Regions from separate parts of the Homo sapiens genome. Here regions 2 and 3 are each linked to region 1. Evidence: fine-mapped expression QTL. A gene starts in region 1. Each other region holds a variant in brackets. All regions are shown on one strand. Distances are between the middles of the regions. Region 1 holds the start of VAT1L (vesicle amine transport 1 like). Region 2 overlaps VAT1L (vesicle amine transport 1 like). Region 3 overlaps VAT1L (vesicle amine transport 1 like).

Region 1 (10,972 bases):
GAGGGGAATCACATGTGCTAAGGCTTTTCCACCAAGGGAGACAAAAATGGAATAAAAGGAAAATAGCAAAAATATAAGGAGAATTAGATTCAAATCCTAAGTCTACTATTTTTTGATGTTTTTGGCAAATTACTCAATGTTTCCAAGCCTCAATTTGCTCTTCTGTTCTGTAGGAAAAATACCCATCTCACTGGCGCATTAATGAAAAAGGGTCCATGATATAAAATGGATATTTCTTCCTGCCTCATCTCTTCCATTTTCATAAAATTCATAGCCAACTTGGAACGTCATTCCAGGTCTGTCTAATACTGGTTCAAATGGACTATGCTTTATTCCAAGCAAAAAGCATATCCTATTATGACAAAAAGGTTTCTATTAAAAATAGAGAGCAGATAAAAGGGAGACCATCATCCAGGAAGCCATCGGCTGATTCATAAAAATACAGAATGAGTCATCCTGTATCCCAAGGCTAAAACTTATAATCAATGATCATGTCTGGCCAGCCAATCCCAGCCCAGAGGAGAAGGAGCTGCCCAGTGGGCCATTTACAAGCCTATTACAATCCTTCCTTGTAAAACCATTAACTCTGCTTCCAGCTTGGTGAAAGGAAAATCAATCTGGGCTGTTTGCAACACTGTATTCCAAATGTACCTGCAGCCTGGTTGGCTTTCTGAACAACTAGGGTCGGGGAAGTGCAGTGATTTCTGTGTGTGTGTGTGTAGCGCCACTGAAGAACAGGCTTTCACATCTGGCTTTGAAAATCAATCTCTTGGCCTTCATCTTGACATTTATTATTTCAAAATGCTTCAGTTCCTATCAGCAATTATGCAGTTAACATAAGACTGGAAAACACAGAACTATGTGTACTGCAGATGATGCTCTTTCCTTTAAAAAGTAGTTTTATCATTTTCCCTCTCTGAATATGTACTCTAGAATCCTAGAATCCCATCCTCAATTTGGATGAAGGGTCATAAATTACATACGCATACATATGCAACTGTATATATAATTGTATATATGTATATGCACATATATGCATAGGTGTGTGTATACAGGTAATTTTTTTTGATGAAGTGGTTAAGGAAGGAGAGTTCTAAATGCATGGTTTTAATTGTACTAAGCAAAAGCTCTTCCACCAGCAAGTAAAGAAAAATAATGACCCAACAATCCTCCTCCGAGCTCTTTCCTCAATCCATTCATTCAGCGATAACTTATTTAGGATGTGCAGTGGGCCAAACAGTGTGGGGTGGGGGAGTGGGCTGGTCTTTGGGGATTTAGCTGCGAAAGGGCAGATATAAGCTCTCCTTCTGGGATCAAACAACTTGGTTCAATAAGAGTTTATTGTACAGGATCCCCCGGTTTGCAAAAGCCTCTTCCCTTACCCGGAATTCCCCACAGAGACTCACGAGTCGTGTTCAGAGTCAAACCTGACCAGCTGCATATATGAGCAGCAAGGCAGGGATCAGCGGCTGCTTCTCCCACTAGCTGCTTTCTAATCTGGCCGATGAAACCTGCGTCTGTTCTCAAGGTGGTGAACGGGAGGGGACCCTCGTTTGTATTTCTCGTGCCTCTAGAGAGGTCCAGATATTGGGTTTCTGATCTAACCTAGAAGCTCGTGAGCTGGCTGCTGCTTTGGAGAGCAGTATGTACTGGGGGGCTCTAGAAAACAGATGGGAAGGAATAGGCTCGTCTCACCGTGATTAATAGCAAGTTCCCCTTACAAGTTTAACATGCAAACCTAGTGTTGGGTCCAGTCCGCCTCTGCTGGGTAAGCTCTTCCCAGAACTTCAGGGAAATTACAGTGCCCGCACACAGAGAGGCTTAAACTCTCCCCGGGAATTTCAGCTGAGCGTGAGGGCCTGGAGAAGTTCCCCCAGGGGGAATGGGGAATAGAGGGCAGCTTAGAGAGCTGAGCTCCTTCTGAGATGGGACCAGGAATTCCGGGGAGACTGATCAGGGTTTTTTCCCCTCTCGGAGAAACAGAGGATGGAGAGGGGCATGGAGGGGGTTGCGCTGCAGCCCTGGTCTCCACCCTCACCAAGCCTGGGTGCAAGGTACCGACCCTCTTCCTTCCTAGTTCCTTTCCCCGTCAGGCTACGGGGAAGGAAGTGGGCAGGAGGCGGGATCCAGCCCTGCACCCTGTCCCAGGCCCTTCAGGACAACAGCATAGAGGTGAAAAAAGATCATGTATCAAATTCCCGGCCAAGCCACTTAGTGGCAGCTGACTGATCTTGGGCAAATCACTCATTCTCGCTGAGCGGCGGCTTTCTTACCTGTAAACGGATCATGATGGCACCTGACTCATTAGGTCCCAGGAAGTATTAAATAAGATCGCACGTGTAAAACTACCAACGGCGGCTGGCACACAGTGGGCTTGCGGTTCTTAATACATATATTTTTAATTCTGTTAAGCATCAACCCTCCCGTGCGAAAGCTGAGTTGTCCTCTCAGACGGAGAACTCCCGTAGCGCAATCTTCCAGACCCGGGGTGCCTGGGCGCCAGCATTCTCCCCGCGCCCAGGAGCTCACATTCTCCTCCCGTCACCCCTAGATCTGGCTTGGGGAGGCCGCCCCTCTGCATCCTCCCCAGCTTTGGCCCGGGGAGGCTCTGAGACCCGGGTGAGGGCGCGGAGGGGGTGCGCGCGGCGGTTCTACCCGGGCAGCATCCCAGCCGCAGCTTTCCCACCCCCTCCCCAGCGCCCAGCGCGCAAAAAGAGAGAAAGCGAGAAAGGCGCGGATACTGGACCAGGCTTTGACGCGGATCTTGAGCTCGCCGTCCTGAGGCTCGGGCATGGCCTTCCTGAAGAGCCGCAGCTTGTTGAGCCCCCCGAAGCCAGCCAGCACCACCGCGCGCATCTCCTGGGCGTCCCCGAGGCGGTGCGAGCCGTCGCCGCCGCCGCCCTCCGCCGGCTCCTTGCCTGCCTCCTTCTCGATCATTTGCTCCGTCTCCTCCGCCTTCTCCACGCCTTCCTTGGCCATGGCGCTCGAGGGCGCGGGGCGCACGGGCTGCGGTGGCTGCGGTGGCTGCGGCGCTGGGGGAGTGGGGCTCCTCTCCCGCGGGTTCCTCCTGTTGAATGTGGGATGCTCGGCTGTGCAATGGCTGCAGCCTCTGCGAGCGCCGCCGCGGTCCACAGCCTCCGCCGTAATCCTCACAAGAGCCGTGCCCTAAGCGCTTCACCCCCGCCCCACCCTTCTTTCCTGTCCCAACGAAGCCTCAACTCCAGTTCCTGAAATAGTCCCAAGTTAGGGTCGGGATCGCGGCCCTAAACCCAAATTTGCCGAAGATCTGTGACTAAAACGAGCCTAGAGAGACCACCCTGTCATCCCCCTTCCTGTGGGCCCAGTACTTGGTTATATACGGCACAGGCTCGGGTGCCTTGAAATGGACCGAGACTAATGTCTGGGCCTGGAGGATGCCTTACCGCGACAAGGTTGCCCTCTCTCCCTCCCATCTTCGAGGCTGGGCGGGATAGTCGGGAAATTGGGTCGTTTCTCAAACAGCCAGTTTTGGGTGGAAGGGCGGAGAGGTTTGGGAAGCAGGGAACTAGAGATCCCGCTCACTGCCCTGAAGAGTCCAGTGCAGGGTCTTTTCACTCCAGACCTGCAGGGTCAGCCGGGATGCTCTTTGCTGGGTATCACCAGGGGCTTCCTTACGACGGCGAATTCTCACCACCCACACCATTTCGGGCTATTAAAGAGGCTTCAGACAAGAATCCTGTACCAGAAAGGATCCTGTTCGTGTTCTGATCCCCGGAAGACCAGTGTGTACCCGCTCCCCAACATGCATGCACATACACAGAGTAGTAACTGGCGTTTTGTTTTGTTATCAGGCTCTTTGAGAAAAACAGCTCATAGAAAAACTTGGAATTTCTGAAATAAAATAATGGGGAAGGACGTGGTTTTCCTAGGGGCAGTTTAAGGAAAGAGATGCAGGTGAGGAAGTAGGTCTATATTCTATTATAGTTGCTATGCCATTGCCAGCCTTGAGATCTTGGGCAACTCATTCAACCTTCCTGAGCCTCAACACACTCATCTATAAATTGGGTACATTGATTTTTTTTTCTATATTGTGTGAAGTGCTGGGGTGGACATGATTTCAGTGAGACATGGTCCTTATATTGGAAAAGGTCAATTTCAGAGCATGAGGCATGAAGGACACAGTCAACAAATGTGGTACAATGAATGATGTAAGTGCTGCCTCTTCTCTCCCCTCATTCTTCCTGTGCCTCACTGCTTTAAATGCCCTTGTCTTCTATTCCTTAAAAAAAAAAAAAAAAAAAAAAAAGACGATTGCCATTTTCCCTCCTTCCACAGGGTTCTGCACCTGCTGTCCCCTTGGCCTGGGGTATGTGTTCCATCTCCTTTATCTGGTGTTAACTCCTACTTCGTTCTCACCTCAAGGGTCCATTCCTGTTGGGAGGCACTCCAACCTCCAGATTGGTGTCCTCCCTGACTATAGACACTTATGTCCCTTTGTAGCCAACTTTTATATGTTTACCTGATAATATCTGTTTCCTTTATCCAACTGTGAACTTCATGTGAGCAGGAGCTATTTCTACTTTTATCCAGCGTGGTTTTCCCAGGGCTTAATACATGATTGGTACATAGTAGAATATGCACAGAGGCAGCCTGTTGAAAAACTGGTCCAGAGAGTTGGAGAAGTTCTCATGGAGGAGGGAACATTTGGGCTAGACCTTGAAGGATAAGGCAGGTTCTTCTGGCAGAAAAGGTCGCAAGCTCATTCAAATAACACAGAAAGGTAACAGGTAAAAGGGCTTTTGAGATTCTGGTTTGTTCTATGTAGGCAGAACATTGGCTGTATTTAGCAATCATTGGAGATGAGGCTGAAAGGTTTATTGGGACCAGCTTTTGAAAGTTCTCACATACCAGGTTATAAAATTTAAGACATAATCACAGAGGCAATTGGTGCCATAAAGGCTTAAAAAACAAAAACATGGGGAGAGCATTACCAGAACTGCATTTTAGGATAATAACTTTGACAGTAAGTGGGTGATGGATTAGATGATAGAGTTACTGGAAGCATCGAGATCAGTTAGAGACTAAGTGCAGGCAAAAAAAAAAAAAAATCCCCAAAAAGAAACAAAATAAATGAGAATGGTCCCAACTGAGGCAATGGCCATGGGATGGAAGGAAGAGGGCTAAAAGAAGCCTGAATAGGGCTTGGTTAGTGAATTGAACATTTTATTGTGAATCCAATTGTCCAAATTGTTTGTCTTGTTTACATTGTGAGATACAGTGTTTAGGCTGGATTCTGTCCTGAAACAAGAATTTGAACACCCGTCGTTTATTTTGGAAGTAATCCCAGGAAGCTCTGGCTGGGAAGTAGGAAAGTGAGACAGAAAATTGATACTACCCAATATGAGATGTATTAATAAGCAGATTACCGCAGTGGACAATTGGAGCTCAAACCCGCAGGGGACATTTGAGAGACAGTGTAGAACAAGTCTCAGAGTTGTCTCACCCAAGGAGTGAGGACATAGGTATTTATTCACTAAAGTCTATGCTTGATTGGTCAAGAACTGTTCCTGGAATTGTTAACTCCTTGACATTTCCATCCTGTCCCATGTACTTGGGCTGAGAGAATCCCCAGGCAGAGAATTGTGGATGCTCTTTGCAGGAAGCTATCATTTTATACATGGAATGATGAATTCCATGGAGACATAGCTTTGGCACCAATAATATCTGCAATATATGTTATTGTTTTGGAGGTGTCTACTGTTCTAGACACTGTAGGTATATTTCTTAATTTGATTCTGAAAATAATCTCATGAGTAAGAATTCCTATTCCCACTTTATGGAAGAGGAAAATGAAAATGAATCTTAACATGATGAATTATTGTGCTCAAAGGAACATGCTAGTTATAATGAGATAGAAGACCAACTCCAAATCTGTGCTCTTAAGATCTCATCATGCATGTTTATACGGACAGGCCAAACCAGTTCTGCCCCTGATTGACAATACTCCATGGCATTTTTTAATGTTCCCTGCTCTTTTTTTTCACCGCCTACTATCTCTGTACCACCAAGGTCCCTTGCCTTGGTTCTGAGTGTTTGTTTTCCTTTGGCATTAGTAAAGTAAACCCACTTTGTAGTCAGCACACAGCATGTTAAAGAGAAAGTGTTTGTCTTACAGTGTGTTAAAGGGAATATAATTACTCCCTCCAAGGGAATCTTCTGGCTGTTTACAAACCCCAGATTATAATTGGTAGGCAGCTGATTATCACAACAACCCAGAGAGAACCCACCACAGTCTGTGCTGCTTGTGGGGGGGTGGGGAGATACCCTCTTCTGAGTCCTATATACCACTATTGTTAAATATTCCCAACTCTGGTACTCCCTGGTGGAACGTGGAAAGAGCCACAGTGCATGGCATATCTCCAAATAAACACAATAAATCAATTTTTAATTTGTAAAATTGATTCCTTGGACATTCACTCAGAGCCTCCGTTGTGGAATTTCTTACATTATTGTAGAATAATGTGCATTATGTACATCATTGTACATAATGTCAAACAGTGGCCACTGATGGTAAAACAGAGTATTACAGCTCAGCTCTGTTACCTTGCAAATGGTCTGGGGCAGGGTATGTGCACGTGGGGGTGTGTGTGGGGGGTGGGGGGGGATGTAGAAGGCCAGATATAGGAACCCCTAATAGAGGTAAAGTCTCTGAGTAAGAAAATATGGGAAACCATCAGTACTGAGAGGTGACAGCATACTGGCAGCCCTCACAGCCCTCGCTCACTCTCGGGGCCTCCTTGGCCTTGGCGCCCACTCTGGCCGCGCTTGAGGAGCCCTTCAGCCCGCTGCTACACTGTGGGAGCCCCTTCCTGGGCTGGCCGAGGCCGGAGCCGGCTCCCTCAGCTTGCGGGGAGATGAGGAGGGAGAGGCCCGAGCGGCAACCGGGGCTGCGTGCAGTGCTTGCGGGCCAGCTGGAGTTCCTGGTGGGCGTGGGCTTGGCGGGCCCTCACTCGGAGCGGCCGGCCGGCCCTGTCGGCCCCCGGCAATGAGGAGCTTAGCACCAGGGCCAGCGGCTGCGGAGGGTGTGCTGGGTCCCCCAGCACTGCCGGCCCACTGTCGCTGCCCTCCCGGGGCCTTAGCTGCCTTCCCGCGGGGCAGGGCTTGGGACCTGCAGCCCGCCATGCCTGAGCCTCCCCTCGCCGCTCCATGGGCTCCTGTGCAGCCTGAGCCACCCCGACGAGCGCCACCCCCTGCTCCACGGCGCCCAGTCCCATTGACCACCGAAGGGCTGAGGAGTGCGGGCGCACGGCAAGGGACTGGCAGGCAGCTCCACCTGCAGCCCCCATGCGGGATCCACTAGGTGAAGCCAGCTGGGCTCCTGAGTCTGGTGGGGACTTGGAGAACCTTTATGTCTAGCTCAGGGATTGTAAATACACCAATCATCACTCCGTATCTAGCTCAAGGTTGGTAAACACACCAATCAGCACCCTGTGTCTAGCTCAGGGTTTGTGAATGCACAAATGGACACTCTGTATCTAGCTACTCTGGTGGGGACTTGGAGAACCTTTGTGTCGACACTCTGTATCTAGCTAACCTAGTGGGGACGTGGAGAACCTTTGTGTCTAGCTCAGGGATTGTAAACGCACCAATCAGCGCCCTGTCCAAACAGACCACTGGGCTCTACCAATCAGCAGGATGTGGGTGGGGCCAGATAAGACAATAAAAGCAGGCTGCCTGAGCCAGCAGTGGCAACCCGCTGGGGTCACCTTCCACACTGTAGAAGCATTGTTCTTTAATTCTTTGCAAGAAATCCTGCCGCTGCTCACTCTTTGGGTCCACACTGCCTTTATGAGCTGTAACACTCACCGCAAAGGTCTGCAGCTTCACTCTTGAAGCCAGCGAGACCATGAACTCACCGGGAGGGACGAACAACTCCAGACGCGCTGCCTTAAGAGCGGTAACACTTACCGCGAAGGTTCACGGGTTCACTTCTGAGCCAGTGAGACCACGAACCCACCAGAAGAAAGAAACTCCGAAGACATCCGAACATCAGAAGGAACAAACTCTAGACGCGTCACCTTAAGAGCTGTAACACTGACCGCAAGGCTCCGCGGCTTCATTCTAGAAGTCAGTGAGACCAAGAACCCACTAATTCTGGACACAGTACACTTTTAGAAATCGTTTTCTAAATTATTTGGAATGGTTCAGTAACTTCCCAGAGAAATGTTATTTAAGGAAGAGGGTCAATGTCTTTAACTATATGCTTTAATAATATTTGTTGCATTGTATTCTCTTCAATACAATTAGAATCATTTGTTGTACATATTTCATCTTTAAAATAATCCTATGCTATAGGACTATTATCCCTACTTTACAGAGGAGAAAATTTAATATAAACTGAGTAACTTTCCCAGAATTACTTCCTAAACAAATTGCAGAGTTGAGATTTGAAATGGGAGCTATTTGACTTTGAAATGTATGTTCTTAACCACCACACTTCAATGCTTATGGTTTTATTTGTTGCTCTTTTACTCACAAGAATGCCATCAAATAGGTTAAGAAAAAGGAGACAAATTTAGGAGGTCAATAATGGAGAGAGGTAAAAGATTCTGGCTGTTGAAATATCCTAACAAAATCCAGGGAGTTATATTAGAGGATTTGTGCCATAATTTCTTATAGTTTGTGGTTAATTCCCAATGAGCACAACATTATTTTTCAGAGAAGTGCTAGAGAAGTGTGCAGCCCATCCTGATGGTGGCAGTATACACTTCCTGTCTACACTTTGTAGGACGGGTCTTACATGGTAAACTCTAGTTGTGTCTGAGGGGAAAAAAAGTGCACTGATACTTATCACCTTTTGAGTGGTGACCTTGTGCTGTTGCTAAATGCTGGAGATAACATGGTGAATAAGACAAATATATTCTCAGTCCTAATGGAGTTATCAGCCCTGTTGAGGAGGTATATATTGGGTTGCCCAGGAGCAAACGTTTGTTAATTTGAAGATTTGCATACATACGGCTTGAGAAGTGATCCCAGGAAGCACTGGAAGAGGTCTGTGAAGGTGAGACAGGGTAGGAAAGAAGCCAATATGAGGTGTATTACTTAGCAGGTTATCACTGCTATAACCTGCTTAAATCCTGCTGGGGAACTCTAGGAGACAGCGTAGAGCACATCTCAGATGTATCCCCATCAAGAGGCAAAGAAAATGGAGAATCCACCAGCTCCTGTTAGTCCTTAGTTGAGGACTGTTTCTGTGGGGCACTAGCCATCTGCCACTTCTAGCCTGCCATGCACATGGGCTGTTTGGGAATAGGCAGCCAGACAAAGCTGTCCTGAAAGAGTTGCAGGTGTTTGTACTTGGAAGCCATGGGGTCGCTGTGCATGGCAGTGATGAGATCCAAGAGGGGGTAGGTTGGGCACTGACCATCTCTGCTACATATATTAAACCAAAAAAAAAAAAATCATGTAAGTAATTAGTCATTTACCAGTTCAATAAGTGCTGTAAAGGGGAAATACAAGGGGCTATCTGCATGGTCGGTAAAAGCTTCTCTATGAAAGCAATGGTAATGTATTAGGTTCAGCTACAGACAACAAAATATAATAATAAAATAAAAATTGGCTTAAAGAATATAAAATACATTAGGATGGGATGGAGGCTGTACATTATCATCAAGGATCAGTGTTCCTTCCTGCTCTGTACTCCAGGTCATGAATCACTGGCCTCCATTCTCATAGTTTAAGATATAGCCATCACATTTATGTGCTGGGTGACAGGACAGAGATGCGTGAGAGGGGAAGAAAGACCCACAGCTTTCATCTTAAGGGCACTTCAGGACTCCACCATAATACATGTACTTATCTCATATTAGCCAGAGCCTAGTCACATGGCCACATCCCACTGCAAAGGATGCTGGGAAACCTAGTTTTTTCTTAGCTAAGTAACAATGTCCAAGTAAAAGCTAAGGTTCTACAATTAATGAGGAAAGGGACAGATAGCATTAGGAGGTGTAGCAGTATCTTCCACAGATGCCACTGAAGGGCTTTAAATAAATGAATGATAGTCTGTGTGGAGTATTGAGGAGTCCCCATGGCCTCCCTACAACAAAACATTACCCAAGAATCCCAGTCCCTGGGATTCAATGCTTCCCTCTCACAACTCCTCTGTAAGATACATTTTCACCCTGTTGGAGTTTTCTCTCCATAGGGATCCAGCTGCAATTTTATAATGGATGTTAACAGGAAAACCCTAACCAAAAGTGCTACTCATAAGACCCTGAACACCATTTTAGCTCTCTATTAATCTGCTCATGTATGAATAGAAATAGAAACATTTCACCTGCTCTTACTCATCTCCATAAGCAGCTGTTATCCATGTGGAGATGATCTTATCAATTGTTTAGTATCATTTGGTAAACATGGTTGGTCAAGTAAAGAGGAAAATATACAACATAGGACTAAGGAATTTAAATCATGTAGTTTGTTTTTGAAATTTCACTCACACTGAAAGATAATTTCTGAGTGATTTCTTGTACCCCTCCCCTTGAATATTATCTAGGGTCCTCCCCCTAGTGTGATGCTGTATGATTTTTTTCTCTTTTTCTTTTCTTCCTCTTCCTCTTCCATTTCTCCTCCTCCTCCTCCTCCTGCTCCTCCTCCTCCTTCTTCTTCTTCGCCTCCTCCCCCTCCCCCTCCCTCTTCTTTTTGAGATGGAGTCTGGCTCTGTCACCCCAGGCTGTGGTGCAGTGGCAGAATCTTGACTCACTGCAACCTCCACTTCCCAGGTTCAAATGATTCTCCTAAATCAGCCTCCTGAGTAGCTGGGACTACAGGCATGCACCACCACACCTGGCTAATTTTTGTATTTTTAGTGGAAACGTGGTTTCACCATGTTGGCCAGGTTCGTCTCGAACTCCTGACTTCAGGTGATCCGCCCACCTTGGCCTCCCAAAGTGCTGGGATCACAGGCGTGAGCCACTGTGTCCGGCCCCTGTGT
Region 2 (5,000 bases), 42 kb before region 1:
GACAGAGCTGAAGACTGGATTCAGGTTTGCCTGTCTTCTTCTTACCAAACAACCCAGCCTTCAGTAGATGATAACTCTGCCCATGAAATGTTGCTGGGAGGATGAACCATGTATTATTCTGTTCTCACACTGCTAATAAAGAAATACCCAAGACTGGGTAACATAAAGAATAAGAGGTTTGGCCAGATGCGGTGGCTCACGCCTGTAATCCCAGCACTTTGGGAGGCCGAGGCGGGCAGATCACCTGAGATCAGGAGTTCGAGAACAGCCTCGCCAACGTGGTGAAATCCCATCTCTACTAAAAATACAAAAATTAGCTGGGCATGGTGGCTCGGGCCTGTAATCCCAGCTACTCAGGAGGCTGAGGCGTGAGAATCCCTTTAACCCGGGAGGCAGAGGCTGCAGTGAGCTGAGACTGCGCCACAGCCCTCCAGCCTGAGAGAGTGAGACTCCATCTCAACAACAACAAAAAAGAATAAGAGGTTTAATGGACTCACAGTTCCACATGGCTGGGAGGCCTCCTAATCATGGTGGAAGGCAAAGGAGGACCAAAGTCATGTCTTACATGGTAGCAGGGAAGAGAGCTTGTGCAGGTGAACTCCCCTTTATAAAACCATCAGATCTTGTGAGAATTACTCCGTATCACAAGAACAGCATGGGAAAGACTCCTCCCACTGGGTCCCTCCCACAACATGTGGGAATTATGGGAGCCATAATTCAAGATGAGATTTTGGCGGGGACACAGACAAACCATATCAAACCATAGACAAATAAAAGGCTGTAAGGATTCTCCTATAGCTTTTATTAAAGGGTTAAGGCTACCCAGACAAGAGAGGACAGTATGGCTTCCCAGAGGAGCTTACATCTGAATTGGGAGAGAATACCATTTTGGAAAGAAAAAAACAGCATATGAAAAGGCACAGAGGTTCAGAGCTTCAAATTTTGCTACTTTGATGCTATTAGATTACATTAGGAGTACACCATAAGATAAAGAGTGTTCTGAGTAGAGTGAGAAGGTCAGGGTGGCTGGAGGGCAGAGTGCTGATCTTGCCTCATCTTCCCTGAGACAGTTTCTGAAAAGGCACAGAATAGAGGCGCATCTCATGTTCCTCGAGGGGCTGGCTGGAGGTGGTGGACCAGTGACAGCATCAAATGGGGTCAGGAAGCCGGGGCACATGCTGGCACCTAGGTTCACTTCATTTTCTCTAACCCTCAGCTTCCACTTCTGTAAAATGGGAATGATGCTTGCTTACTGCCTATAGTAATCTCTGCTCAGATGATATGATGATAAAGGTAAGAGGACTCTGAAAACTGCAAAGCATCAGATATCAGACACAAATGCAAATAACCTCACAGGAACAGTAATGCCACTCTCCAGAAACTGAGCACACCCGGATTAAGAGACTCAGAGTCATAGCAGCTTTATCAACAAGGCTCATTAAACGGGACTGGCAACAAAACTCGAGGCCCAACATGAGTCTCATTCTGTTACCTATTTTGTTACTTTTCCTTTAAAGGATTGTGACCCAATTTTCAACCAGTTTCTAAAGATCTTATTAAGAGCACTGCCATTTGGGGCCATCTTGTCATGCTATTGTCAGAGGAAAACAATGTCCTCAAAGATATGACAGAGCATGGAGGCAGTGGGCAATTCCAATGAGAGTGTATCCTGCTCCAGATTGAATTATTTTTCCATGCTGTATTCAGGTTTCCTTAAAACCATAGCTAAGTTTGGTATTCCTCACATGCTGTCTGCAAATTCCCCATCTCAGCCTTTGATGAAACTCGGACAGAAGTCTTGGTGCCATTAGGGCTACACACTTTACATAACCCTATTTAGGAAACTTTGCCCCAGCTATTACTAGGTTTAGTCTTCTTTGTCATCTCATCGACACCAAGTTAGCAAATATGTACCTGGGCCCGTCTTTTGGATCTTGAAAACATCTATGCTGAGCACTGGGTAGAGGTTGAACAAATATTTGTTAAATGAAGGACTGAAGAATCTGGGCTGGCTCTCCCAACATTTTGGGCTGTTGAATGGAAAGAGAAGAGGTTTTGGAATCAGCCAAATTGAGGTACGAATCGTAGTTCTGCAATTCGCTACTTTGATTTTCTTCAGGCCTCTGCTGGCGGGCCATAATGAAAAGGGAGGGAGAGAGGCAGCCCCAGGAAAGTGGTAGTATCGGTTTCCCATAAGTGGCAACAAATTAACACAAACTTAGTGGCTCAAAACACAGATTTGGGATATTAAATTGCTAGAGGTCTGAAGGGCAAAATGGGTTTCGCTCGGCTAAAATGAAGGTCTTAGCAGGGTTGTATTCCTTCTGAAAGCTCAAGAGGCGAATCCATTTCCTGCCTCTTCCAGCATCTAGAGGCCACCTGCTTCCTTGGTTCACAGCCTCCTCCTCCATCAGAGCCAGCAGTGTAGCTTCTCTCATTCTCTCTCTGATTCTTCTACTTCCCACTCCCACCTTTTTTATTTTTATTTTTTTATTTTTTTGAGATGGAGTTTTGCTCTTGTTGTCCAGGCTGGAGTGCAGTGGCACGATCTCAGCTCACTGCAACCTCTGCCTCCCGGCTTCAAGCGATTCTCCTGCCTCAGCCTCCTAAGTAGCTGGGATTACAGGCATGCGCCACCATGCCCAGCTAATTTTGTATTTTTATAGAGATGGGGGTTTCTCCACGTTGGCCAGGCTGGTCTCGAACTCCCGACCTCAGGTGATCCGCCCGCATTGGCCTCCCAAAGTGCTGGGATTACAGGCGTGAGCCACCGCGCCCGGCCCCCACTCCCACCTTTAAGGACTCTTGT[G/A]ATGACACTGGGTCATCCTGAATAACGCAGGATAACCTCCCTATCTCAACGTCCTTACTTTAGTCATACCTGTAAAGTTCCTTTTGCCAGGTAAGGCAACATACAGGTACCAGGGACTCACTGGTCTCTCCCTGCAGGGGAGTGTGATGGTGTGGGCTCTCTGCAGGACTCCTTAGATTTTGTAAGACAGTGCCCCACCCATCCCGGCTCAGCGGAGTGTTCACATATGTGGATCTGCACTTTGCCAAAAATCTCTTCTCTAATGGTAACCTTTAATTGCCACACACCACCTATCAAATCTCGTTTCAGAGAACGCTATTCAAAGAGACCAGCCCGTCTGAGAGATGGGTCCAACTGCACTTTTCAACTCTGCCTGAAGATTAAACCAGACCACATCCTTTTGGCCCAAGAATATATGCTCTCACTAAATCTTGCTTTACTTTGATGCTCTTAGATTACATTAAGAGTGCACCGTAAGAAAAACCTTCATGGAAACAGTTGCATTTACTATAACAGCTTTGTTGAGGATGTTTATTGCATTTCACCATACATTTCTTATGAGAAACCACAGAGAAAGAAAGAGTCCTCTGGTCCCCAAAACCAGTGTTAGTTATGGTTACCCCTAGTAACTGTTTTATTTCAATCAAATGAACACTAGTTCACATGGATGACCATTTCCCCCTATTTTCACTCACTATTAGAAAGCTAAGAGACAAAATTGTACAACTTCAGCAAAGCTTTAGGACAACATAGCCTGTGCTATGTGCATTGACTTATTTTCCAACCCTCATTGTCCACTTTCCCCAGTTCCTTCACCTGTTTTACACTTTAGTTAGTATTGTCGGTAGCATCTGTAAGCCCAGAATAGAGCACGATAAAAACTTCTTTTTATTTTCCAAGATTATTTTCCTTTTGTAAGACACATGCCCCTGACACATTCTTCTTTGCTCCAAGAACAAAACAATAAAAATAAAAACATGAAATGAAATATCATAGGTGTAAATGTATAAATACTAATTCTCAGCAGAACTGAGTCCAGCGTCATTGTAAAGACTGAAGCTTATGCTGATAGTATGACTACAAGTCTCTAATACTTTGTATGCTGAGCACACTAAGATCATAAATGCCAGCATTCTAAATGGCTTGCTTGCTGTTAACAGATTCACTGGAACTGAAAGCCATTTCTTTTCTACGGGATGCTTAGCTTTTATATGTCTTTATTCATGGTCGAAAGGTATCAGCAAATTTGCTAAAATGATTGAAGATATTTTTCTTAAGGCATTCCTAAAGTTTCCTATCTTTGCCTTCATGGTTCTGGATGTGAGCTTGTTTTCTTAGATACAAACAACGGAAATGTGCTCTACACTATATAGAGTTTTAATAGTTACAGAAAGCCAAGTTTTTCTTTTTTAAAATCAACGGTATGCTAGCAAAACCTCCAGTGAAATATCTCTGAGATACACCAAATCCTAAGAGTTTATTTCTGAGTTCATCAAACTACAGAATCAGTGACTCTGAGAACCTCTCAAAACCTCTAAGATAGGGGATTAATCTCTATATCCACAGAGTCTAGAACATGTTATGTGTTTAATTAATATGTTTTGAACTAGTAGGTAGTACCTTCCACTCTCAGAAACACTAACGTTCCACCCAGACCCCAGTAGACCAATGACAGACATAGTGCTTGCCATGTAGCAGGCATGCAATATACACTGAATGCCTGGCAATGAGACACAGACAAACCATGAGAGAAGTTTCTGCCATCCCTGAAATCTAGAGCAGAAATTTTGATTTCCACCATTCTCCGCCTTGGCAGAGACACACCTGACAGATGACGCTGACATGTGCAACCACTTTCATGAATGTACTTAGGTTTATGTATGATTTCTAGTGTGCTGGTACAATCTCTGCCCACTCAAGAAAATATAGCAGAATACAAATTAATAAGAATGTCATTAATATGGGAACCATCTCAAGTCCACTGCAATTTATTGAAAAAACTAAATCACTGACAAAATGACCATTTTGTCATTTCAAATAATAGCAGTAGTAGATGACTTGTGAGACGTCTTACAATGATTGACACAACTTTTCATCATGATACCAAGACTGTTGAGAATGCTTCTCTTTTTCTTTTTTTTTTTTTTTGAGACGGAGTCTCGCTCTGTCGCCCAGGCTGGAGTGCAGTGGC
Region 3 (5,000 bases), 110 kb before region 1:
TTTTTTTTTTTTCAAGACACAGTCTCACTCTGCTGCTGAGGCTGGAGTGCAGTGGCGCGATTTCAGCTCACTGCAACCTCTGCCTCCCGGGTTCAAGTGATTCTCGCGCCTCAGCCTCCTAAGTAGCTGGGACTACAGGCAGCTACCACCACGCCCAGCTAATTTTTGTATTTTTAGTAGAAATGGGGTTTCACCATGTTGCCCAGGCTGGTCTCAAACTGCTGACCTAACCTGATCCCCCCCGCCTTGTCCTCCCAAAATGCTGGGATTATAGATGTGAGCCACCTTGCCCGGCCCTTTTTTCCTATTTTCTAAATGTTGTATATTGTAGTTATATATTTATATAGCTTATTTTAATTGCTATATAGAAAAAATTATGCTGGGAGAAAGGGCAAAATAAGCACATAAGCAAAGCTCACAAATACACAGATATATGCAGACACACAAATACTCATATGATCTCCGGAATAAGGAATGTGGCTTGGATTCCCAGCTCTACTACCTTGTGCAAATTACCTTACTCAGTCTATGTTTATAACACACACATATCTGTGTAATGAACATAACACCTGTCCTGCCTATCTCTGTGGTTTTACTATGGGGCTTCATCCCCACAAAGGCAAGTAAATGCTGTGCAAATAGAAGGTGTAGAGTCAGGTATAGCCTCTTTGAATTGTCACCTCTGCACTTCCAGCAAAGCCTTGCATACGGTGTAGCTTGGGAAGTAAACATGCTCATGTGGAGTATGTCCAACTGCCAAACAATAAAAATGCAATGAAATTGGAGCCTAACTAGTTGGTAATTTGTAGCCATTTGGGTGAGGCTGAAAGGGAGATGGTGAGGCTCAAGTACTGGCCTTAAAGTCAAGGGAATCTGTGCTACTACTTAGTAGAGTTGTGTGTCTTGGAGAACACATCCGCTCTCCGCATCTAGGTCTTCTTATCAACCCTGGAAAGGTTGGGTGAGCATCACGTGGTTTTCAGCTCCTGGTCATGGGAACAGAGCTCAATCACCACATCCCCATCCTCACTCAGTTGGTGTCTGTTGAGCAAACTCACTGAATGATAACACATGTGAATGTGCTAGGGAAGCTATGAAAATGACACACATTTTGGAAGGGAAGTAGAAAGGAAGAAGCAAGCTCAAGTTGTATCAAGCACCCACTCTGTGGCATTTCCATACACAGCATGCAGTTTACAGCTTACACACTGCTTGCAATAGACTTTGAAACAGGCAGGAAGAGCAAGGGTTACAGATGCAGAAAGGTTTGAGATGCAGTGTCACCTGTCTAATCACAGAAGGTAGGAACTGATGAACCAGGGTGTTCAAGCCAATCTCTCCACTGCAAATCAGGATGCCTGACGGGGCAACCAGGTTGAAGAGCTCAGGACAAAGTCATCGCCGCTCCTGGAGGGGGTTGAGGCCTTGGTGACAAGCACAGCTTCAGGAGAGAGCCAGTCTGAGAGTTGAGTTTTGGCTCCACCACTTTTTGTCTGTGTAACCTTGACCAGGTCACTTAATGCTCTAAGCCTCAGTGCCCTCATCTGTAAAATGGGGGCAATAATAGTTCTTTCCCTACAGGATTGCCATGAGTCTAGATGAGCTAATGCATGTAAAGTGCTCAGCACAGTGCCTGGCTCTGGGCAGATATCACACTGTAGCCATGATTGCTCCTTTGTCATTTGTCCATGGCTCTGCTGGCAGCTGCTCACTTAGAGTTTATTAAATGACTAACTGGAGCGTGGCACTTTCCTGGCAGAACCTCCCAAAACAAGCTAACAGTTTAGTAATCAGAGACTAGATGGTTGGAGGGTTAGAGGAATGCAAACACCAGCATGTGTTTATCATTTGTGCTGTTCAGAGCTTCTGTTCCATAAAGCAGCTCCCACAGTTGCCTTTGGAAATGAGTACAAGCACGAGGAAAGGGCACTGGTAAGCCTGTTTGCAGCACAGCAGTAGCACATCAGGGAGGAAACCAGCTCTGGGAGGTTTGACTGCAAGGTGATGGAAAGGCAGGGCCCCACCCAACCCACCCCTTCTGATCTGGTAACAGAGGCTGGCTCGTACTGGGTGCCAGGGCATGCCTTAAGCCCTGCAC[A/G]CACAGCCTCATGATATTTTCACAGCAACCCCACAGAGGAGGCCCTGCTATCATCTTCATTTCACAGATAGCAAAGCAAGGCTTAGGAAAGAAATGAAGCCACTCTCCTAAGAAATCACAGCTATAACTGGAGGAGGGGAGACTTGAACTTAATCTGGAGTTTGCCCTTTTAACCCTCATGCAAAATTTTATCTCTTTAGCCCTTTATAATTTGCAAGGCATCTCCCGTTTTTGATCGTATGTGACTCATAGTTTGTTATGGATATAACTGTGTCCCCCCCCTCTTTTCCAAATATTTATATGTTGAAATCCTAACTCCCAGCAACTCCATCGCAACCTTATTTAGAAATGGAGATTGTGGAGATGTAATTAGTTAAGATGAGATTATACTGAAGTAGGGTGGGCCCTAATCCAATACTAGTGTTCTTATAAAGTGGGGGAATTTTGGAGATAGATGCCCACAGAGGGAATGCCTTGTGAAGATGAAGGCAGAGATAGAGGTGATGTGCTTATAAGCCAAAGAATGCCAAAGATTGCCAGACCTAAGAGAGATGCATGAGACAGATTCCTTCATGACCCTCAGAAGGAACAGACCCTGCAGACACTTTGATCTTTACACTTCCAGCCTCCAGAACGCTGAGACAACACATTTCTGTTGTGTAAGCCCCTTGGCTTGTGGTACTTTGTTACAACAGCCCTAGCAAACTCATACACAACTGTTTTGGGAAATAAAGTCAGCTGTTCCTATTTTATAGGGGAGGAAAAGGAGGAAGAGAAAAATGAAGTGCTACAGGACAAACCACTAGGAAGTGGAAGGGTTAAGAAACCCAGTTTGGGCTGGGCGCAGTGGCTCACACCTGGAATCCCAGCACTTGGGGAGGCCGAGGCCGGTGGATCACCTGAGCTCAGGAGTTCGAGACCAGCCTGGCCAACATGGTGAAACCCCGACTCTGCTAAAAAATACAAAAATTAGCTGGGCATGGTGGCTGGCGTCGCCTGTAATCCCAGCTACTCAGGAGGCTGAGGCAGGATCATTGCTTGAACCTGGGAGGCAGAGGTTGCAGTGAGCCGAGATTGCACCATTCCACTCCAGCCTGGGTGACAAGAGTGAAACTCTGTCTCAAACACAAAACAAAAAACAAAACCAGTTTTTTGGACCAAGAATTTGCCCCCATCCAATCAGACCTGCTTCTGCACATTATAATATGCCTCGTGTCAGCAGAGTGGTTTACAGTGTACAAGAGTTCACCACATATGGACTCAGTTGATTGCACAATAATCATAAATCCTATGCAATAACAAGGAACATGGTAGTATCCCCATTTCTAATGGAGGAAACTGATGCTCAGACCGAAGTGTGGATTCCAGAGGTGGGGGTAGTGGTAATATCCACAGCATGTTTATCTGCCAGGATGTGACCTTTTACTCATGCATTATCTGATTTAAATGTACGTCCCAAGATTCAAGAATCTTGGTCTGCAGCACAGTTATCTACTTAGTCTAGCAAATAAAGAATCTGTGATTAACATATCAGTACAGATATCTTGGAAAAATCTTGAAACTGGTCCTCTGTTGCCTTTCTGCAAATAAGATATATTAAGTAATTTCTCCATCAACCTCAAAGGCAAATAGAAACTTTCCAGTCTTTGGAAACAGCAGAATCCTGGTCTGTGTCTTTTAAAACACAGCCAAGGGCAGTGTGAGTTGACTCTGTCCCTGGCTCACAAGGAAATCCAGTTTTGTGAAGTATTTTCATCTGAATGACAGGCGTAAAGGCAAGGACGAGCATTTTCTTTGTAACAGGAATGTATTCAGAGCTGAGCTCCCAGACTCCTAACAAGGAGTGCTGAGCTGTGAATAAGCCTAATTCTGCAACACGCTGGTCTCCTGGTGTAGATGAAGTTGTCTGCTTAGAACCTTGATGGGAGATGCTGCACCAGGCTGATGAAAATGCATGCCCTGAGGCCCCAGAAATCTTTCGCGGGGCATATCCTGTGTTCTCCTCCCTTGGCACCTTGCCAAGAGTCCCTGACCTCAAATATCTCCACTCTCTGGGGGAAATGCATTTGCAATGCCCTGTAATGACAGCTAATGTTGAGCACTTACTCTCTGTCAGTCATTAAGCTAAGTACCTTTTGTACATTAGGTCATTTAATCCCTCTAAATAGAAACCGAAGGAAGGTAGCGTTATTCTCTCCATTTTTCACAGGAAATTGCCCATGCACATGTCAATGAGGGAGGCAAGCCCATGGGATCTAAAAGCAGTACCTCCTAACTCAGGGTTGGGATAATGGCAAGAGGGAGGAATGGTTTTACGGAAGAGTCGACACCAGGGCTGAGTCTTAAAAGGTGACCAGGAATTTTGCAGGAGGACAAGGATGAGGGAAGGGCATGCAGGCCAAGTTAACAACTGGAACAAAGGCAGGGAGGCTCAGAGTCTCAGGTTTCTGAAAATCACAGTGGTCCAGTAAGGCCAGAGGGATGGGTATATTCCGGCGGTTGGCGGGAATTCCTCCTATCCCGTTTCCTCTCCCCTCCATTCGAGGTCAGCCTCCCCATCACTCTGTGCTCAGCCTGATGAACCTTTCTTCTGTCCTTGAATGTGCCAACCTCCATCTTTCTCTCCAACTTCCAGGCCTTTGCCCAGGCTGTGGCACAGGCCTGGGTCTCAGCCCTGCCCAGCTCTCTTCCTCCAGGCTTCGTTCCCTGCTTATATAATTGTCTGACTGTTCACTTCCACCATCCTGGCTGCCCCTAAGCATAGGCCCAGGCTTTCTCACTTGCAACTGTGTTTGCAAAGCCTGGCCCGGTGCTTGGCGCGCAGCAGGCAGGCACTCTGTAAGCATTTGTTGAGTGGCATTAGTGGTATGTATTAGTTTCCAGTTGTTGCTACAATAAATTA

What was found. PIP is the estimated chance that this variant, and not a neighbour inherited with it, causes the effect.
Region 2: its variant is the best candidate, but not a certain one, in a credible set for the expression of VAT1L in tibial nerve (GTEx, PIP 0.53).
Region 3: its variant is the best candidate, but not a certain one, in a credible set for the expression of VAT1L in esophagus mucosa (GTEx, PIP 0.76).

What each region holds. Positions count from the first base shown.
Region 1 is chr16:77,780,690-77,791,661 of GRCh38, reverse strand. It overlaps VAT1L (vesicle amine transport 1 like), which reads right to left and starts at 3,098. Exons shown (of 9, transcript NM_020927.3): 1 at 2,747-3,098. The coding sequence starts at 2,979. All of the region lies in intron 1 of LOC107984878 (a long non-coding RNA gene), which reads left to right.
Region 2 is chr16:77,826,164-77,831,163 of GRCh38, reverse strand. The region is part of intron 3 of VAT1L (vesicle amine transport 1 like); the gene reads right to left. Among named protein-coding and RNA genes, the nearest start is that of VAT1L, 40 kb to the right of the region's middle. The variant G/A (reference allele first, on the strand shown) is at 2,810.
Region 3 is chr16:77,895,708-77,900,707 of GRCh38, reverse strand. All of the region lies in intron 7 of VAT1L (vesicle amine transport 1 like), which reads right to left. Among named protein-coding and RNA genes, the nearest start is that of VAT1L, 110 kb to the right of the region's middle. The variant A/G (reference allele first, on the strand shown) is at 2,099.